2 separate regions of the Homo sapiens genome follow, and region 2 is linked to region 1. Evidence: fine-mapped expression QTL. Tissue or cell type: fibroblasts. Region 1 holds a variant in brackets; the other region holds the start of a gene. All regions are shown on one strand. Distances are from middle to middle. Region 1 has its middle 55 kb from the start of LINC01060. Region 2 holds the start of LINC01060 (long intergenic non-protein coding RNA 1060).

Region 1 (10,175 bases):
AATCCATTGAGTAGGGGTGGGGAGTGGCTCTGAGAGGCCGGAGTGAGGCCTGAGTGAAGGGATGGGAGAAGCAAATCCATTGAGTAGGGGTGGGGAGTGGCTCTGAGAGGCCGGAAGGGATGGGAGAAGCAAATGGCGCACATTGTGTTTCGGTGACTGAGAGAATAGTGGTTATGTTTAATGAGACAGAAGATTCAGTGGATAAGCAGATTTTAGTGGTGGGTTCAATTAAGAAATTGACCTCATCTTTATACAGATTCACTTCCTTTTAATTTTCTCTCAACACACTCATCCAAAATTTGGTTGTGTTGTTTTTCTGCTGAACAACCTGTATTATTCTCCTTTCTTTTCCAAATCTCCACATTTTGGCCCAACCCGTGTTCCATGGTGAATTCAGACAGTAAAAGAAGCAACTGTTTTTCAAGTGCCTTCTTTGTTATTTATAACACAATGCTTTTTATTCCAATTTTGTAGTTGACTTCTTTTCTCTAATAGATTATTGTTTAGTCATTGCAGATCCTGTTATTCTTCCCAGCAAACAACCTCAAAGTTTCACTGGCTTACAATAAATAAAATTTATTTCTTGCTTGTGTAATTTAATTTTATTTCATGTACTTTTATCCCAATGTACATTTCAATTTGGGACCCAGACCAAAATAGCCATTCAAGTGCGAGGGGTTTATTTTGTAGATGATCCGAAAAGAATAGGAAGTGAGATAGGGAAGAAAATAATGACAAAAAAGGCTTTATTTTCAAGGGCGTTATCACTGTGGACAACTGGAGCTTAATCCTACTGCGGAAACCGAGAAGCCAGGGTAAAATGTGTACCTGAGTAATCCCACCCGTGGGCCAAGGTAATTGTAATATTTACACACCAATTTCCATCAGCCATTGGTCGTGGCTGTACCTATGAGTGATCACTTTCCAGCATTTCAGGCCTAGAAAAAGTAGCCAAGGAGGTTTCAGAGTCAGAGAAAGCCCTCGTGCAGAAAATGTACATGCTAGCATTTACAAATCAGTCAGGTATGCATCGATGTGGTTAGAGTAAAAGGACATAGAGAGGAATCCACTAAATCCATCCAGGAATAAACAAATAAAATAGGAAAAAAAAACCCACTGTTGACATAAGTTAATACTTTTATTTTACCACTATTTCTTTCTTTAGCCCTTTTATTCAGTTACGGCTACTTGTGTACATTAGGTAGGTAGTGTGCAAATTTTACAGTATGCATTAACTCAAATTCTATATTTGTAGTAACTAAAACACGCCTTATTTTTCATCTCTATGCTATTCCCTCCCCTTTCCCCAGTTTCTCTGTGTATGAAGCTCGACTGACTTGTCAAAAGCTCCCTAAAGTGATGTTTTTACAATAAAGTCTCTCCTAAACTTCAGTTAGGATCAATCACTCTCTACTGGCTGCTCCTGTAGAATTTTATCTGTAGTTTTGTTTTGTCATCTTATCACTTTATAATATTATTTACAATCTGTCTGTTAATGTATTGTGCACAGGGCTGGGCGCAGTGGCTCACACCTGTAATCCCAGCACTTTGGGAGGCTGAGGTGGGTGGATCACGAGGTCAGGAGTTCAAGACCATCCTGGTTAACACGATGAAACCCCGTCTCTACTAAAAATACAAAAAATTACCCGGCGTGGTAGCGGGTGCCTGTAGTCCCAGCTACTCGAGAGGTTGAGGCAGGAGAAAAGCTCACCAGGAGGTTGCAGTAAGCCGAGATCGCGCCACTGCACTCCAGCCTGGGTGACAGAGCGAGATTTTGTCTTAAAAAAAAATATATATATATATATATACACACACACACACACACACACACACATATATATATAGAACACCTTTAAGATGATTTGTGTCTTACTTCTTTTTACTTATCCCATGATTGTCACAATAAAGGTTTGCTCACATCATAAGCAAATACCTAAATAGACATGCCTGATTTTCTTACAATTATGGAAGTGAATCTTACTTTGAAAAAAAATCATAAATGCCCCACATTTTTCAATGTGCTTTTGGACATTTCTTAATAACTATGTTTTTATAATATTATATATGTTAAGGCACTTACAATTTTAATGTGTAGTTATATGTAAAATCACATTGTATCGAGTAAGCATTATCAAATAATTCTTTATGATGAAATTAATTTATGAGTTTCTAATAAATACTACAGTATTGTTGGCCAGAAAGCACTAATGAAAATAAATTAAAGGTATTGTTTGTTACTTTAAAGGCTAGGAATTTCTAATATAAAGAAATGTAAGGAATAGTTCATAATTTAAGAACACAGCCACTTCAAATTGTAAAAAAGAATTATCTATTGTTAAAGCGAACTAAATATGGCCTGGGAAGGACTCTATACTTCTATACTTGAGTCCTTGTAGAGGAACCATAACCTAACTTAATAGGACAACAAGATTGAAAACCTAATTTAGGAGTATGTACGTGGAACAATCGCCAGTCCAGCAGCCATACTTCAGCCACTCACACACTGCTGCGTGTTCAAACTGTGTTCGAGTAAGGCAAACTTGTAACCAGTCCAGTTGTTTGTGTAACTCACTTCCGATTTCTGTACATCTTTTTCCTTTTTTTGTCTACAAATTTTCTTCCACGATGTGGCTGTGCTGGAGTCTCTCTGAATCTGCTGCGATTCTGGGAGCTGATTCACGCATCATTCATTGCTCAAGTAAACTCCTTTAAATTTAATTCAGCTGGCCGGGTGCGGTGGCTCACGCCTGTAATCCCAGCACTTTGGGAGTCTGAGGAGGGCAGATCACCTGAGGTCAGGAGTTCGAGACCAGCCTGACCAACATGGTGAAACTCCATCTCTACTAAAAATACAAAAATTAGCCAGGCGTGGTGGTGCGTGCCTGTAATCCCAGCTACTTGGGAGGCTGAGGCAGGAGAATCGCTTGAATCCGGGAGGTGGAGGTTGCAGTGAGCAGATATCGTGCCACTACACTCCAGCCTGGGCAACAAAAGCAAAACCCGTCTCAAAAAACCCAAAAGTTTAATTCTACTGAAGTTTTTCTGTTAACACTGTGTTATTATTTTATCTTTTGATGAAAGGCAAATGATATAAACAAGAACTTGGAATATTTGTGAATAATGTATAAATAAATAGTTTCTGTTTATTCTCTGTATTCTGTTAAAAGTTTTTGCTCTGCTCAATATATCTGGCCATAAAATTCTTTTAAATCCTGTATAATTTTAAAAGCAAATTTGATGCATGTGCAACTTATTTTATTTTATTTTTTTTGAGGCTGTTTGTTACAATGGAAATTGCCTTAACAAGTCTCATGTGGCACATGTGGTGCCCAGAGCATTCTGAAAGTTATGGTTTTGAAAGCAGTCGTTGTGGCGACATTGTCCTAATTAAAGTTCTCGGGCAGTTTTGCCGACATTCAAAACCATCTTCCATTTTTATCCTTTTGTGGTAATATTTATCATTTATAAAAAGGAATTCCAACACCTCTTTTCTATGTATAATCTCCCAACGTTCCTGGTCAAAGCAGTTTGCTCCCAAATTACCAGAAGTGGTCTCGTTGCGGCAGCAGAGCTCCCCTGGTGCACTTCTACTCACGGGTTTGTTGAACGTGTAGCTTTACCCACCTTGAGGCAGAACTGCATGTGCCCGTGTTGGCGCTGACGCATGATGTGTGGTGCACGGATGGAGCAAAGGTGAATATCTCCCCACAGCAGACCTCCGAGGTTCATAAATTATTTATCACATACTTCAGTGTGCTGCCACAGTGATCAGGGCCAGTTTCCAATATGGAGACAAGAGCTCTTTAATCACGCTCTTCCCTGCAAAAGAAAAAGATTGGCATTTAACAGAGAGCTGTAAGACAGGATAGGGATGTGACTGCAGGGAAACCTCCACTTGGAATAGGAGTCGCTGGTCAGTTCTAGACCCAATGGCATGGACTTATGTAGTAATAGTAGTAAGAGTTCCTGAAGATAGTTTCAATCTATTGCCAGCATTCTGTAGGTCTTTATAACAAGCAGGAAATGGATACACATGTCTCTGTTCCATAATTAGAAAAGTATCACCATTTTCCTGGGACAAAAATATGTAAGTTTAAACATTTTTAGTGCCAGGTCAGTAGTCACGATTTACCAACAGCATTTTTTATTTTAAAAATACAGTTAGTGACTACACCATTGGCTAACAAACTGAGACTTAAAGCATTCTCTAGATGCAAATGCTACAAATAAATCAAATTATTAGGCATATTCACTAATACTTACAAACTTAACTTCATATATAAAGCAAGGTAGATCACCAGTGTGGCCATGCAAACAGGGTTTGAGGACTTCAATATTTAAAGCAAGTTAGTCCAACCCACAGCCCAAGGGCCACATGCAGCCCAGGATGGCTTTGAATGAGGCCCAACACAAATTAGCAAATTACTAAACTTACTTAAAATGATGGGATTTTATTTTTTGCCATTTTTTGGTTTGTGTGTTTGGTTTTTAGCTCATCAGCTTTGTTAGTGTTAGTGTATTTTATGTGTGGCCCAAGACAATACTTCCAATGTGGCCCAGGGAAGCCAAAAGATTGGACACTCCTGATTTAAAGGGAAAAGGGAGGGCAGATGAAGAAAGAGGATAAAAAAAAGAGAGAGAAGGTAGACAAAACAGGAAAGTGGTTAGTCTTTGGAGGCTTTGATTAGCACTTACTGAATCTACATTTTACATGTGAAAGGAGTGGGTAGCGAAACAGTGAATTATGCATAGTGCTCAGTGCGTCTGCATTTTTGCATAAGATAAAGTAAACATAGAGGAGGTGCTCAAATATGCATTCCTCTCAGGTGAGCCAAGGGATGCCCTCTAGGCCTGTCTTTGTCAAGGTACCGGTGAAGATAAGCTGTTAGTTTACATTGTCAAGGTGAAATAGAACAGCGTTCTGTTTTAGGGTAAAGCTCTTGGGGCCCACGAGGAATTTCCTTGTGAGCAATTTGTGAAGGAGGCCACCGGGGGAGACATGTGGCCTTCTGTCTTTGCAGCTATCTACTTAGGAACAAAATGGAAGGCAGTTTTTGCATGATGCAGTTACTGAGCTTCACTTTTCCCTTTGGCATAGTGAGTTTGGGGTCCTGAGATTTTTATATTCCTTTCACAGCCTCACTATACTTGAATTAAAATACAATCTACATGTTAAAACTGACCACATCATTCTTTCCTGTGTGTCTTCAAAGGATTTAAGGCCCATCCAGATAATCCAAGATGATCTCATTTCAAAGCCTTAATTATATCTTTGATGACTCTTTTTCCAAATAAGGTCTCAATTAGAGGTTCCTGGAATAAGACACGGACTCATCTCCCTGGGGGCCACCATTCAGCCTGATCC[G/A]GAAGGAAGGCCATGATTTCAGCTCTCTGGGATTTGAGACAAAGAGGCCCCTTTTCTTTCATTTTATCTTTTCATGTCTCTTCTTGCCATGTACCCACATGATTGAGTGTGGGCTGAGGGTGAATCCAAGAAGGGCTTTGTTTTGTGGTCAGTACAGGCTTTGGTCCACAGAGACAACAATACTTTCAATACTCTTTTGTTCTGCCCCAGAGGAGCTCAACACAGAATTGCCTAGAACAAGAAACTGGGTAAGTGTGCTTGGAACATACGCTTGTCTTCTCTTCTTTGGACTCTTGATTGCAACACTCATCTCTGCCTGGATATTCACATGGACTTATACTCTCTGTCTTTTCTTCTGTGTGTCTTCTCTTCTGTATGTCACTGAATGTTGGGCCCACCTGGATAACCCAAGATGATCTCATCTTGAGGTACTTAATTATATCTGCAAATAACATTTTCCTAAATAAGGTCACAGGCATAGTTTTGGGGGACTGGGACATGGATATATCTTTTTGGAGACCATGATTTAACTCACTATAGGCTAAATTCTCAGCCCTAAAAGGGGTCCTACACAAAGTGAGGGCACTCAATGGAAAGAAGGGCTCTGAGATGTGAGATAGGAACATGTGAACAGAACCTTCAACCCACAGATTCCCCTGGACTATCAGGTCCAGGAGAAGAGACTCCTTCCTCTCTCAGGTTGAGACTCCCACGGCCTGGAGATTAGGCAAAGCCTCTGTTCGATCTTTGCATGAAATTAAGTAGTCTTAGTGGTCTATTGCAGGGGTCTCTATCTGTGATTGACCTTTACTTATTTCTTGCTTAATGTACTATCATTCTCTTTTTTTCTTGAATAAGGTAGTTTACATATTAAATTCTTCGCTAAAGATACAGCTCTTAAATTAAAAAATACTACTACTACTACCATTTTGCTTTAGTCAGTAAGTTCTGCCTTAATTTTCTGTCTATTTTATATATTTTGTCTATATTTTGTTGATATATTAAAGTTTTTTCTTGTTTTTATTAATATGATGATTTAAGGCTCTAGAATTTCTTCTGAGTGCAGATCTACCTGGGTCATACAGATGTTGTCATATGTGGTCAGTTCTTTTACAAATATTCTTCAACGTTTTTCTCTTTGGCCCTTAATGATATAAGAAAACTTCCAAAAACTGTATGTTTTTTAGTGTTTTGGAGTTTTATTGTTTATTTAATTTCACTGCATCTTAATCAAATAATTAAAAATGCTTTTTAGAAATTACTGAAGTTTTGTGGTCTGAAATATAGTCTTTTTTATGATCTGTGGAATCAAAAAAAAAAGCATTCTATATTTTTAAGGTGCCAAGTTTGTTATCTGTCAATTAGAGAAAACTATGTGATTTACATTTTTACATCATGACTTACTATTGCTCTCTTCAGCAGTCACAGCCTGATAGAGGTGATGTAATTTTCCCTGCTGTGCTCCTGTGTCTGTGTCTTTCCTTATGCATGCTCTACTTTTTTTTTTTTTTTTTTTTTTTTTTTTGAGACGGAATCTTGCTGTGTCGCGCAGGCTGGAGTGCAGTGGCGCGATCCTGGCTCACTGCGAGCTCTGCCTCCCAGGTTCATGCCATTTCCTGCCTCAGCCTCCGGAGTAGCTGGGACTACAGGCGCCCGCCACCATGCCTGGCTAATTTTTTTTATTTTTAGTAGAGACGGGCTTTCACCATGTTAGCCAGCATGGTCTTGATCTCCTGATCTCGTGATCCGCCCACCTCGGCCTCCCAAAGTTCTGGGATTACAGGCGTGAGCCACCGCGCCCGGCCTACTTTTTGTTTTAAGAACATTGATGCTCTGTTATTTAATCTCTAGAATTCATAACTGGCATATCTTCATTGTGAATCACACGCTTATTTTTTCTTTTCTGCTACTTTTTCTTACTTCTATGCTTTTTCTGCCCTGTGTTTTAAAGAGAAGAAAATCAGTGATGCCACACAAAACACTCCGTGGTAGTCAGATCACAGCGATGGTTTTAACATTTGTAGTGCTGACATTCTGTTCCCGTTCTTGTCTCTTTCACTGAGTTCTCCTACCATCAGGCAGGTTCCATGCTCGTCACCAGGCCCTGGCTGCAACTTTTCATACCCTATCAACATTTGGTTCACTGATGATTGTTGTTTGCTAGATTTTCCAAGCAGTTCCATATAAACAATGTTCCCATATCTTTGAACATTCAAAAATCAGTTTGTATTGCGTTTATACTTGATTGAAATAATAGTTGGTATAAAATTTCCGGGTTGCACTTTCTTGGTGCAAAATTTCACAGGTCTCAGCTCTTTCAGTATTGAATACTGCTACACACTGCCCTTGTGATTACAGATTCAAGCTGGCCATCAGACTTGCAAGACACAGACAGCTTTAATCTGATGCTACATTTACTGGGCTTTAAAGGAGGATACAGGCCGGGAGACACAGCTGGTGTCCTGGGGCACCCACAGCTCCCTTTGCCCTTTCACCTATCCAGGGCCTATGTGGCTGCCACAAACAAGAGTCAGGGTGCTTGCGGGCCACATGGATAATCAGAAGCCACCGCCTTGATTTCCCAACAATTTTTTATGCTATTTCTAGACACAAAGCTACAAGCCACATATTGATTCACAGCCCCCCTGTTCCAAGGGCAATGGAACATAGGTGATGAGGGAGACATTCCACATCTATTTCAAATCTGTAATTTCCAAGTGTGTCTGTTAGCTTCTGTTGATTAGGAAATTATCCCCAAATTTAGTCACTTCAAACAGCAACAGTTTGTTAACCTAAGGATCTGCTGAAGAGTTCCCATGGTCTGGGCTGGCTCTGGCTAATCTCGCCCAGGCTTGCTCACATGACTGCAGTGCCTTAGCAGGATGGCAGAGGGCGACTAGCCCGTCATAGCCTGCCTGTGGTCTGGTGGTTGGCCATTTGCCTCTGGCTCAGCGTGGCGATTGTTTCATTATTTTGCATTCTTTTGTTGTTGTTGTTTTTTGTTGTTTTTTTTTGTTTGTTTTTTGTTTTTCGTGTTTTTTTTGAGACAGGGTCTCTCTCTGTCACCCAGACTGGAGTGCAGTGACGTGATCTCAGCTTACAGCAACCTCTGCCTCTGAGGCTCAAGCAACTCTCCCGCCTCTGCCTCCCAGGTAGCTGGGATTACAGGCGAGCGCCACCACCGCCCAGCTAATTTTTGTATTTTTAGTAGAGATGGGTTTTCACCATGTTGGCCCGGGTGGTCTCGAACTCCTGACCTCAAATGATCCAGCCGCCTCGCCCTCCCAAAGTGCTGGGATTACAGGCGTGAGCCACTGCGCCTGCCTGTTGTTAATAGTGGTAAAATATTTGGTGCAGCTTCTCAGTGGCCACATTTTACAGTTTCGGATGCACTTTCTGGATCGGGCATGCATTTTCTGCTTGTGTAACTCTGCTTATTTTGCATTATTTTAAGGCATTTATAATTAATTCTGATTCCTCATTTTGGACTATGTTTTGTTTCTCCTGAACCGTCTCTTTCCTGTAGGTAGAGGGAAGCATTTCATGGAGGGCCAGGTCCCTGGCTAGGACAAGGTAGAGCCTCACAGTCATATTTGGTATCCAGCGGCCATTGCTCTGCCCCAGCCTGTCATCTGGCTGTGGTGGGTTTGGTGGCCCACGTCTAACTCTACCTCTGTTTCTAGACTGTGACCCGGGACCGGGGGAAATTAGTAGCAGCCCGTGCCTCCAGTGCCACTGTGGCGAGCCCTCTAGGACGGGCCTCTCACATTGGGCTTTATGGTGTCCGCGGCCTCAGTGTCAGTACTCTGCTCCTCCCCACAAGCAGCCCTGCTCAGTTTGCCCTGGGCTGGCAGGCTTTTTCTCTGTGTTGAGGTTTGGCATTTCACCTCACTCCTGTTTTCATTAAAAGTAGACTTTTCCTTTCTATTTCAAGTTCTGTGGATGATTTTGGGAGAATGTTTTCTTTATATCATCTGCAAATACGCTTCCTCATTTCCCACCTCGACTTTCCATCTTCCACTTTCAATCTTTTCTTTTTTTGGAAGGAGGGTGGGGTATTGTCAGAGTTGTATTTTCCAAGAGCCCTTTCAATTTCTCCATTTTTGCCCTTTATCACTGTGTGTGTGTGTGAGAGAAAGAGACATACAGCATACATATAGAAAGATGTGCAAAATGTAAATGTATATTTAACAAGTGGTTATAAAGCCATATAATATGCAACAACCACACAGGTAAAGAAATAAAGTCTTACCAAAACCTAGCAGTCTCCCAGGTGTCCCTCTCCAGTCACCACACTCTTCCTCATGCCCCTACCCCAGTACCCCCAGGAGTCAAACACTTTTCTGCCTTTAGTGTCATCATGTCTTAGCTGTGTTTATAATTTTACCACCTATATATGCATTACGAAAGAGCTGCTTCTCCTTGCTATCTTTTTCTTGCTGTAGGTCTTGTATCTTCAAAGATACTTAGAAATAGGGTTCCGAATATAACTTTTTCTGTTTCTGCACTCTCTCTCTTCTTTTGTGTTTCCTTTAATCTGTCAGACTGATTTTGTTCCACTCACATGAAAACTCTGTCCCCAGTGCCTCCTGATCCTTGCCTCTGCATTCATGACTAAGTGTGATGCACTGGGAGATGACTGGGAGTCCGTAGGGAGTGGGCGTATTGGCCAGTGGTCCTTGCCTCTGCATTCATGACTAAGTGTGATGCACTGGGAGATGACTGGGAGTCCGTAGGGAGTGGGCGTATTGGCCAGTGGTCCTTGTCTCTGCATTCATGACTAAGTGTGATGCACTGGGAGATGACTGGG
Region 2 (10,175 bases), 56 kb after region 1:
TCCTCTGCTCAGCAATGATAAATAAATCATTTTGCTATAAATGAGTCTAGAGTCAATGCTTCAAATGAGAAAAAAAGCAATCCACTATTTCTCCTTAAGAATGATTATATATTTGATGAGTATCTTTCTTCTGATAATGATTTGTAAAATCTTATTTCTTGGTACTCCCATGAGTAGTAGAATATATTGAACAGTAAAATGTTAAACAGTTTTTGAGATGAAGGCACTGTTTCTATTCAACTTATCACAATTACTGAGGGTATCAGGTATGTACTGGATTGTCATAGCTTAAAGAGATACCAGGACGATGACAAAGGAAAGTTGAAGTTAGCTATTCTGATCAGTAGAAGGACACGCTTTTCCCCGCAAAGGAAATAAAAGTGTTAGTGTCGTTCTGTTGAGATAATTTTATCAAATAGAAAAAAGGAATAAAAGGAAAGTCATCTGTGCATTTGTAACCCAGCGATTCTCATTAAATCATTATACCATGCTAACAAGAGAAAAAAGCGTCTACAGGTGGTACTCCATTTTCAACTGGGAAAAGAGCAGGTCTAATTTGAAATAACCCAAGGCTAAGGGTGCTATAGGATGGAAGGGGAATTTTTAATCAACACTATGGGCACACATCAGGTGTCCCCGAGGGCCACGCTATGAGGAAGAACCTATGATATGTTCTATCTTCTTGTAACAGTGCTACCCTCTGGGAGACTACTTGCCCAGGGCTGGGAATTTATCTTTGGAGTTAGTTTAGGACTCAGGGTGAAAAGGAGGAGCAGTAGGAAGTGAGGCTATTGGAAAGCTTCTGTAAAAAGTGGCCCCTTCATTATTATTCCATATTCTGACTAAGCAGAGAAATGAACCTGTAGTTTCATCCATATTTTCAAAAGCAAAACTTCTTCTACTAAAATAACTTGCTACAAAAGGTATGTACTAGTTTGGGATTTTGTTTTTTTCTGTCAGTTTGATAAATGCTGTTTGGACTCTCATAATCCCCCTAATAATTGACTGGGGTCAGAGTATCTCTAGGGCGATGCTGCACATTTTAAAACCGCTTCACGGGGTGCTGGTATTCAGAGAATGCTCTTGAAGATCTGTTTCCCATTGACTTTTCAAATCCTGTTAATTGCTTATACAGTAAGCGTTAAAAGTCAGGCCTGGCAAAATCAAGGAAGCTGCAGGGAGCAGATGAAGTTTTCATGCGCAGGAGCACAGCTAGGATGAAACGAGAAGTAACTGCCGTGTCCAGTGTGGCCCAGGTGGAGAGCTGGGGGTGTGCCATGAGACTGTTAGGTCCAGAGGAAGTACGCTCGATTCGCTTGATCTCGGGGGTAACTGAAGAGATAGCAGCTCTCTCTAGAAGTCCTTTTCTGAAACTATTGAGACCTCTGACACTTCAAATCCTTAAACGCAGGAAAAACTACCAATTGATTAGAATGCCCTTGAGAAGATTGAAGTATGAGATGGTGTTGGACTAGTGGTCATTTGTTTCAATCTCAAGATTCTGTATTTCCTATTCTGAAATTTCTATTTATTATAAATCTTATAATCTTTAAAATTCTATTTTTCTAAGTCTGAGATGTGGTTGAATTTCAGTTTATAAGAAGAAATAAGGCATATGTGAATTCCCTTAACAAATCACACAGTTCAATTCCTGATAGTTGTTACCTAACGTTTATAATGTTTCTTTTTATCAAATGATCTTCAATATTCCCTGCCATGAAATGGAAGATTAGTGAATTTTTTACTAAATTATTTTGGCCTTAAAGTCTGTTCTGCCAAATTGAAATACTTGGACAGAACTAACTTTTGCTGTACAAAGTGGACAGTTAGCCATGGAGTGAGCTATTGAGAAGAAAGAATATTTTCTGAGCAGAAAACTCATTCTTCTTTTTCTAATAGCTGTATTAGGAGATTGAATTGGGGCCACTATGCTCTTTCTCTTGGGCAGGAAACATGTACTTTTTTTGCAGTCAGTAATGTTTTCATAGCTGTTATCTGACCCTTACACTGAGCAGAAGAGTTTCTGGGACAGTTTCTTTAAGTTTACAAATAATCAGCCATGTATAGGCTTAAAAAATAAATAAAGATTTCTCATCCATATGAATGAGTGGAGCAAATAAATTAGATGAGGGAAGCTGGATCACAATCTTGAGAGGAAACAAGAGGAAAATTCAGAAAACATTTCACCTATACCTGGTTCTGTTAATACCTTGCCACTACCATATTATGGATGCAGGCTGAATACATGTTTTCAGAGGTTAGCACTGCAGCCAAGCAAGCAAGCATACTGTTAATCTGATATATATAAGGACACACATAACTTACAATATAGTAAAGCAAATAGGCTTGAATGGCATTGCAGTTCACACACACTGCCATGGTGTTGCTATTCAACTTCTGAAACATAATTTTAGTTTTGTCCTCTTGCCTCCCTTGCCTTGCTATAGTGATTTAGCTTTAAAAATGCAAGCCTGCACCTGTCATTTCCCTGCTAAGCATCTCTATTGGCCCCCATGTCCTCAAGGATGCAGACCAAGTCCATTCCAGAACAGCTTCCATGCTCCAGTCCTACCCACCTCAGTAGCCCTATCACTCTTCTTACTTTCTGCTCCAACCACAATACAATTCTAGTGGTTGATCAAAATGTTTCTTTTTCTTTTTTTTTTTTTGAGAGGGAGTTTTGCTCTTGTTGCCCAGGCTGGAGTGCAATGGCGCCATCTCGGCTCACTGCAACCTCTGCCTCCTAGGTACAAGGGATTCTCCTGTCTCAGCCTCCCAAGTAGCTCAGATTACAGGCATGCACCACCACGCCCAGCTAATTTTTTTGTATTTAGTGGAGATGGGGTTTCACCATGTTAGTCAGGCTGGTTACGAACTCCTGACCTTAGGTGATCCACCCGCCTCAGCCTCCCAAAGTGCTGGGATTATAGGCATGTGCCACCTTGCCCGGCCTCAAAATGTGTCTTGATACAAAGATTTCCCCTACACTGTAATGTTCCTCTAATCCTCCCTCTCATAACAGCTACTTATCCCTCGGGTTTCATCTTAAACTTTACATTTAGGGAGAACCTTCCCCCACAGAGCAGACATATCAGGTCCCCTGTGTATTCTCTAATGGCAGTCTTGTATTTCTTTGTAACAAAAATTGAATTTATTTAACATATGACTTTCCTACCATTAAGTCTTTTACTTGAACGAGGGCAGGTATTCAGTAAATGTTTCTTGAATAAATAAATGCATGGTAGTTCTTTATCATTTATTATCATTGGTCTAGTCACAGACTCAGAAGCAGTTGGAGATACTAGTATGATTGAATTTCTCTATTTTTAGTTTCTTTCAAATACTTGCACACACACAGACACACACACACACACACACAGACACACACACACACACACACACACACAGCTTCCTTGCAGTTTCCCAGAAATACAATTCCAGAGCCACAGGTCCCTCATCTCACAACTTGTCCCCATGTTCTCATTTGTCCCTCTGATCTTACTTGTCAGCCCTTCCCAGCACCTGGGGATCGTGCATTGTGAAGCAGCACACTCAGGGGTTCCCTGCTCCGTGTTTCCCTCCCTAATGCCAAAGGGCCAGGAGCCATTGTGTCGCAGAGTAGGCTGCTTCACTTGTGCCTGAGGGAGGACAGACAATATGCTCATCAGGATTCAGGGAGGAGAGTGTGGACGCTCAGACAGAGGAGTGCTGTCTTTGTTTCTCGCTGCTATATCAGAATGCCACAGACTGGGTAATTTATAATAAACAGAAATTTGCTTCCTCACAGTTCTGAAGGCTGAGAAGGTCAGGATTTAGGGGCCAGCATCTGGTGAGGGGCTTCTCACTGCATTCTTCCACGGTGCCAGGTGGCAGTGCAAGAAAGCACATAAGACACACAGCAAGAGGAGGCTGAACTCACTTTTATAACAAACCCACTCACCCCATAATGAATTTACTCCTGTGTTCAACACATAAACTTTTGGAGACACATTCAAACCATAACATGTACTATTGAAATGGAGCTCTGACAGGAGACACCTTGGGTGCCTCAAGCTGGAGATTCTGCTTTGCATCCCCAGTTAATAATTAGTAGATAAAAGAAAGAGACTCTTTGGGCACTGGGACCTGGGGTCTATGAATGTTGAAAAGGAAGAGCAAACCATGACATCAGGACTTGAGTTTCTCACACCCCTTTCTCCCACCCCCACCCAGGCAAAAATAGATACAAAAGAAGAAGGAATTACAGAAGAAGTCACATAACATTATTGCCTACAACTGACTGTTTACCTTGAATACTTGAAGACCAGAATGAAGATTCTTGGGGTGAAGAATTACAGCCTTAGCATGGAGCAGGCCTCGGTGCATCGGCTTTCAGCTAGGCATGCCTGCCAATGTTCAACGTCCTCCTGGGATACGGAAGGCACCGTGATAGACATCTGGGCAAGTCAACAGGAAGGTGGATATCCAAATCTCTCTCTTCGCAATGAGTTTCCAGTTAGATGGAGGAGAGAGTAATAAAACACAGTAAGTGTGGAAAAGATTAAAATGCATGTTGTGATATACCACAGGAAATCAGAGGAGAGAGGTTCATTCTAAGGGGAATGGTGGAAACGTCAGTGAGAACATACCACCTGGGTGGTTCTTGTAAGATGATGTGGAAGAGAAAAGGTAAAGATTGAGCAAAACAGTGCATGAGCGAAGGATGCAATGTGAGATGGTCTGAACAGTTTAAAAGAATAACCTGGGCCAGGCACGGTGGCTCACTCCTGTAATCCCAGCACTTTGGGAAGCCAAGGCGGGTGGATCCCGAGGTCAGGAGTTCGAGACCATCCTGGCTAACACGGTGAAACCCCGTCTCTACTAAAAATACAAAAAATTAGCCGGGCGTGGTGGCGTGTGCTTGTAGTCCCAGCTACTTGGGAGGCTGAGGCAGGAGAATCGCTTGAACCTGGGAGGTGGAGGTTGCAGTGAGCCGAGATCGCGCCACTGCACTCCAGCCTGGGCGACAGAGACTGACTCCCTCTCAAAAGAAAAAAAAAAAAAAAGCATAAGCCGAGGGAATGAAAGTACTTTCTGTGGCTGGAGCACAGGATGTCTAGACAGAAGAATTTGGAAAGAAACAGAGGATACTAGATTTGGAACAGATCATTCAGGTCCTCAAGACCTTGAAAATAAGGCTACAGTTTTTAATATTATTATACTGCAGGCCATTGAAGATAATGCACTTGTTTTGTATTGTTTTTGTTTTTCAGAAGACAGAGTATTAACTTTTTTTTCAGGTTGTAGAATTCATCAATTCCATAACCATTTTTGAATGAGTATTACAGGTCAAGGACTTTTCTAAAAAGATGGATATGGTCTCTTCTGTCATGGGTCTTACATTCTGTGGGAGGAGACAAGCAATAACTACATACAATGAGCACAATAATTGAAGTGATTATGTGGGAATTAAAGGGGTGGGCTATTGACAACTTCAGACACCATGGTAATTAATGGCCTTCGATTTGTAACAGGAGCTGAGATTCCTGACTTCACAGATCCCTGAGGAGATGTTTACTAAAGGGAATCTTCTGGTCACTGTTACCTTCCTCCGTACTTACCTGCCTCATGGAGTAAGCATGACAAAATTCTTGATTACATAGGGAAAATCACATCTTCGATTAATACTTTCCTGTTTTTATTCTTCATTACTACTTGCATGATATTCACATAATCTTTTCTCTTCTCCTGCTTCCTCCGTGCAATAAGCTGCTCAGGCAGCCTTTGCTCTTAAGAGCTTGTTTGTATCTGAGAACGAGTTAAGGCTTTACACTGGTAGTAAGTTTAAGTCATGCCAAAAAGGGGTAGAATACCTGATTCTCCTAGTTTCAAGACAAGCCAGGTTTTTTTTGTTTGTTTGTTTTTTAAAAAAGCAGAAACTTTCATTGCTCTCTCTCATCTGAAACTAGATGAGGCTATCTACTCTGAGTGGCCAGGTCTTCTGTAATTTGTAACTGAAATGCAGGTTACTTGCTCACTGCACGTACAGTTCAGTTAACGAGGGAAATCTGATCCAAAATAAGTGAATTTATTCCGAAGTTAGCTTGGGGGAAGGGGCACAAAGCATCCCGCCTTTGAATGTGCCGCTTCTCCTCTGTTGCAAAAAGTGGGCATTTTCATAGGGTAAGGGAGGACATGAGCAAGGGCAGGGGTCCCACTGCTTCTGGTCAGTTACCTACCAGGCAGTTGAGTTGGCACCTTCCTGTGCAGAGTTCAGTTGTAAAAGTAGCCAAGTGGTCATGCTTTCGATGTGCTGTCCTGGTGCGTATGAGTTCCTAGGTCACCCCTGGAGGATGGCAGTTCCGAGGCACGCCCCTGGAGGTGAGAGTTCCATGGGGACATGCTTTGGTCTGTAAATCCACCGTCAGCTCTGGAGGAGAGACCTGTCTTGGAGCACGAAGTTAGAGGAACTTGCTGTGTAGGCAATGTCCTGTGAGGGAGAGGTGAGAGATTATATTTGCATTTCAGCAGAGCTAAGCAGAAAGCAGAGAGCCAGGGAAAGGAGAAAACAGAGTGAGAGGGAAAAATATAATTAAACCACCCGTAGAAAAATAGGGAGAACTGGGGGCCGGGGCGGTGGCTCACGCCTGTAATCCCAGCACTTCGGGAGGCCAAGGCCGACGGATCATGAGGTCAGGAGTTCGAGAGCAGGCTGGCCAACATGGTGAAACCCTGTCTCTACTAAAAATACAAAAATTAGCTGGGTGTGGCAGCAGGCGCCTGTAATCCCAACTACTCGGGAGGCTGAGGCAGGAGAATCGCTTGAACCCGGGAGGTGGAGGTTGCAGTGAGCTGAGATCGTGCCACTGTGCTCCAGCCTGGGCAACAAGAGCAAAACTCCATCTTAAAAAACAAAAGAAAAAAGAAAAAGAAAAATGGGGTACTTGGTTACATTTTAAGAACCTAAAAATCTAGAATTTCATGCAAAACTCATAATTTTCAAGTTGGTAATTAATTTTCAAATGTAAACATATTGTGGCTCGCAAAGAACAATAAGATCAATCAACCAATAAAGGCAAAAATAGAGAGTAAGGAAGAATCCACACTAAGAAGCGTGAAGACTTGATTAGAGACATAAGCCAAAGAAAGGAGATGTGTTCAGTGTTTACTGCCATGTGCCAAGCAGGGGCGGGTGAAGACAATGGCAATGTGAACAGCTAGGAGGAAGGCAATATCTGGTAAATTAGAGCCGATGACATATGAGTCCAAAGGAGAAAAGAGGACGCTGAACCCAAGCTTGATGATTGGGAGAATGGTGGTCCCGTGACTTGTCCCACCGAAGCCAAAGAAAGAACAGATCTAAGGGATGGTGATCTTTGAGCAAGCTCGTTTCCCTCACACGTTCCAGCGCTGTTTCACGCCAGGCTCTGGGATTGAATGATATCCCTGGATCAGGTTCACTGGCGTCCCCTGCTGGCACAGAGCAGCACAAAGACTTCGAAACTGGATACGCTGATAAATTTATGAAATCTCCACAAACTAGAGAACACGGGCTAGGTGCGGTGGCTCACACCTGTAATCCCAGCACTTTGGGAAGCCGAGGCGGGTGGATCACGAGGTCATGAGATCGAGACCAGCCTGGCCAACATAGTGAAACCCCATCTCTACTAAAAATACAAAAAATTAGCTGGGCATGGTGGCGGGCGCCTGTAGTCCCAGCTACTTGGGAGGCTGAGGCAGGAGAATCGCTTGAAGCCCGGAGGCGGAGCTTGCAGTGACCAGAGATCACTCCACTGCACTCCATCCTAGGCGACACGGTGAGACTCTGTCTCAAAAAAAAACAAACACAAAAACACTAGAGAACATGTTATTAAATAATAGAAAGAAAGAATGCCCATCTGATAAAGGTACAAAACTGACCTTAAAATGACTTAGCACTGGAAAGAAAAAAAAAAGAGGCTACAAATTTTTGGTTACTGAAGAGCCTTTTAAATAAGATTATATTAAAACAGTGGGTAGATCTCTCCAAAGCAGAATAAGAAAACCCCTAATCTTCCTCCTAACTAAATGATTATATGATTTGATGAGTGAGGATTAAGTTCTGCTTTTAAATATAATTGCTGGGTAATATGAATATAAACCAAATATGTAAAATTTAAGATACAAAGATCAATATTCCCAATTCTATAAAATTTGTGTCAACTAATTGTAGATAATAAAATATTTTATGTATTTTTTAGAAGAAGATAATAGGCATAACAACTATTGTGAAATTATCCAAATTTGTACTCTTAGTTGCCAATTTTCAGTTCTTTAGAAAGTGCAATTATTCTTAGCAGTGAGAAACATGAGTCTCACAGAATACATTTAAGTCTTCACTTTGATTTACAACCTCCAGTGTTAATTAAACAAATGCCAACTATGCTAATAGTCTGGAAATCCTTTGACAAATACTGAAAGAAATGACAGGTCTGGCACATACACATATAGATGGAGGCTTGCCTGATTTTTAAGAGGCGTTTTACAGATTTGGCCTTATAATACTTATTCTATAACTATTCATTTTATCCTGGAAAATGTTGTCTATAAAGTTTTGGAGAGAAATTGCTCTGTAGAACAAATTGACATTTCACAGGAATAAGTCCACTATTGCTAAGAAAAATGGTACTGGGGATGGAGCCCCAAAATGGCAGAGGCAAACACAGCCCTATCAACCTCTCCCATCCCCCTGTGTACACATTAGTATAGACTTAGTCTGTCTTTAGGAACAACATTTTTACTGACCTGCTTTCTAAGTTGTTGGTCCCTCCTCTTCCCTGGGATCTACATATCAGGGTAGTTTCATAATTCTCTGTTGTCTCAGTTACGTGTTAAAAGTAAGCATGTTCACTGAGTGATGATTTTACTTTTTAAACAACCTCATCTTTTACCGTACCATCAGTTATATTAAATATGACATTTAAGGTTTTAAAAGTGGAGTTAGAAAGCTACATACTGAGAGGTGAAGCCAGGCGGGCTTCTGACTCATGTGGGGACTTGGAGAACTTTTCTGTCTAGCTGGAGGATTATAAACGCACCAATCAGCACTCTGTGTCTAGCTAAAGGTTTGTAAATGCACCAATCAGCACTCTGTAAAAACGGACCAATCAGCACTCTGTAAAATGGACCAATCAGTGCTCTGTAAAATGGACCAATCACCGCTCTGTAAAATGGGCCAATCAGCAGGACGTGGGTGGGGCCAAATAAGGGAATAAAAGCTGGCCACCAGAGCCAACAGTAGCAACCGGTTTGGGTACCTTTCCCTATGAAAGCTTTCTTTCACTTTTCACAATAAGTCGTGGGTGCTTCTCACTCTTTGGGTCTGCACTACCTTTATGAGCTGTAACGTTCGTGGCGAGAGTCGGTGGCTTCATTCTTGAAGTCAGCCAGACCAAGAACCCACCAGAAGGAATAAATTCCAGACACAATACAATATGTTGGGTGAGCAGATCATGGCACTTATGTCAGGAAAGCTTGTGTTTAATCCTGGGTGTGCCATTTACTAAGTGTGTGATTAGTTGTATTATATATACATACACACACACGTATTTTTTGAGACAGAGTCTCGCTCTGGCACCCAGGCTGGAATGCTGTGGTGCAATCTCGGCTCACTGCAACCTCCGCCTCCCAGGTTCAAGCGATTCTCCTGCCTCAGCTTCCCGAGTAGCTGGGGCTGCAGGCATGAGCCACCATATCCAGCTTTTTTTTTTTTTTTTTTTTTTTTGGATTTTTAGTAGTGACAGGGTTTTGCCACATTGGCCAGGCTGGTCTCGAACTCCTGACCTCAGACGATCTGCCCACCTCAGCCTCCCAAAGTGCTGGGATTATAGCCATAGGCCACTGCACCCAGCCGTATCTTTTAATTTTAATACCCAAATGTATTATCAAGCTAATAAATTTGAATAAAAACAAAATAGTAAAGCTAATATAAATATTAAACTTTTTACACAAAGAATTGGTTCTTTAAAAAGGTTAGCAAAATTGAGAAATCTTTGCTAGAATGATTTAGGAAGAAAGAAGACTCAACTGAAAATCAGAAGTGAAAGAAGAGACATTACTACCAATTTTGCAGAAATAAAAAGGATTGTAAAAGAGTACTGTGAACAATTGTATACCAACAAACTGAACATCTTAGGTGAGATGGACAAATTCCTAGA

Evidence for each region.
Region 2: it holds the start of LINC01060, and the variant in region 1 is fine-mapped to the expression of LINC01060 in fibroblasts (GTEx, PIP above 0.99).

Annotation. Positions count from the first base shown.
Region 1 is chr4:188,395,221-188,405,395 of GRCh38, forward strand. No RefSeq gene overlaps it. Among named protein-coding and RNA genes, the nearest start is that of LINC01060, 55 kb to the right of the region's middle. RefSeq lists enhancers at 4,352-5,103, 9,631-10,175. The variant G/A (reference allele first, on the strand shown) is at 5,366.
Region 2 is chr4:188,451,151-188,461,325 of GRCh38, forward strand. LINC01060 (long intergenic non-protein coding RNA 1060) reads left to right here and starts at 4,428. Exons shown (of 5, transcript NR_033869.1): 1 at 4,428-4,524; 2 at 5,514-5,612. LOC105377609 (a long non-coding RNA gene) reads right to left here. Exons shown (of 4, transcript XR_001741960.2): 2 at 6,219-6,469; 3 at 4,288-4,476.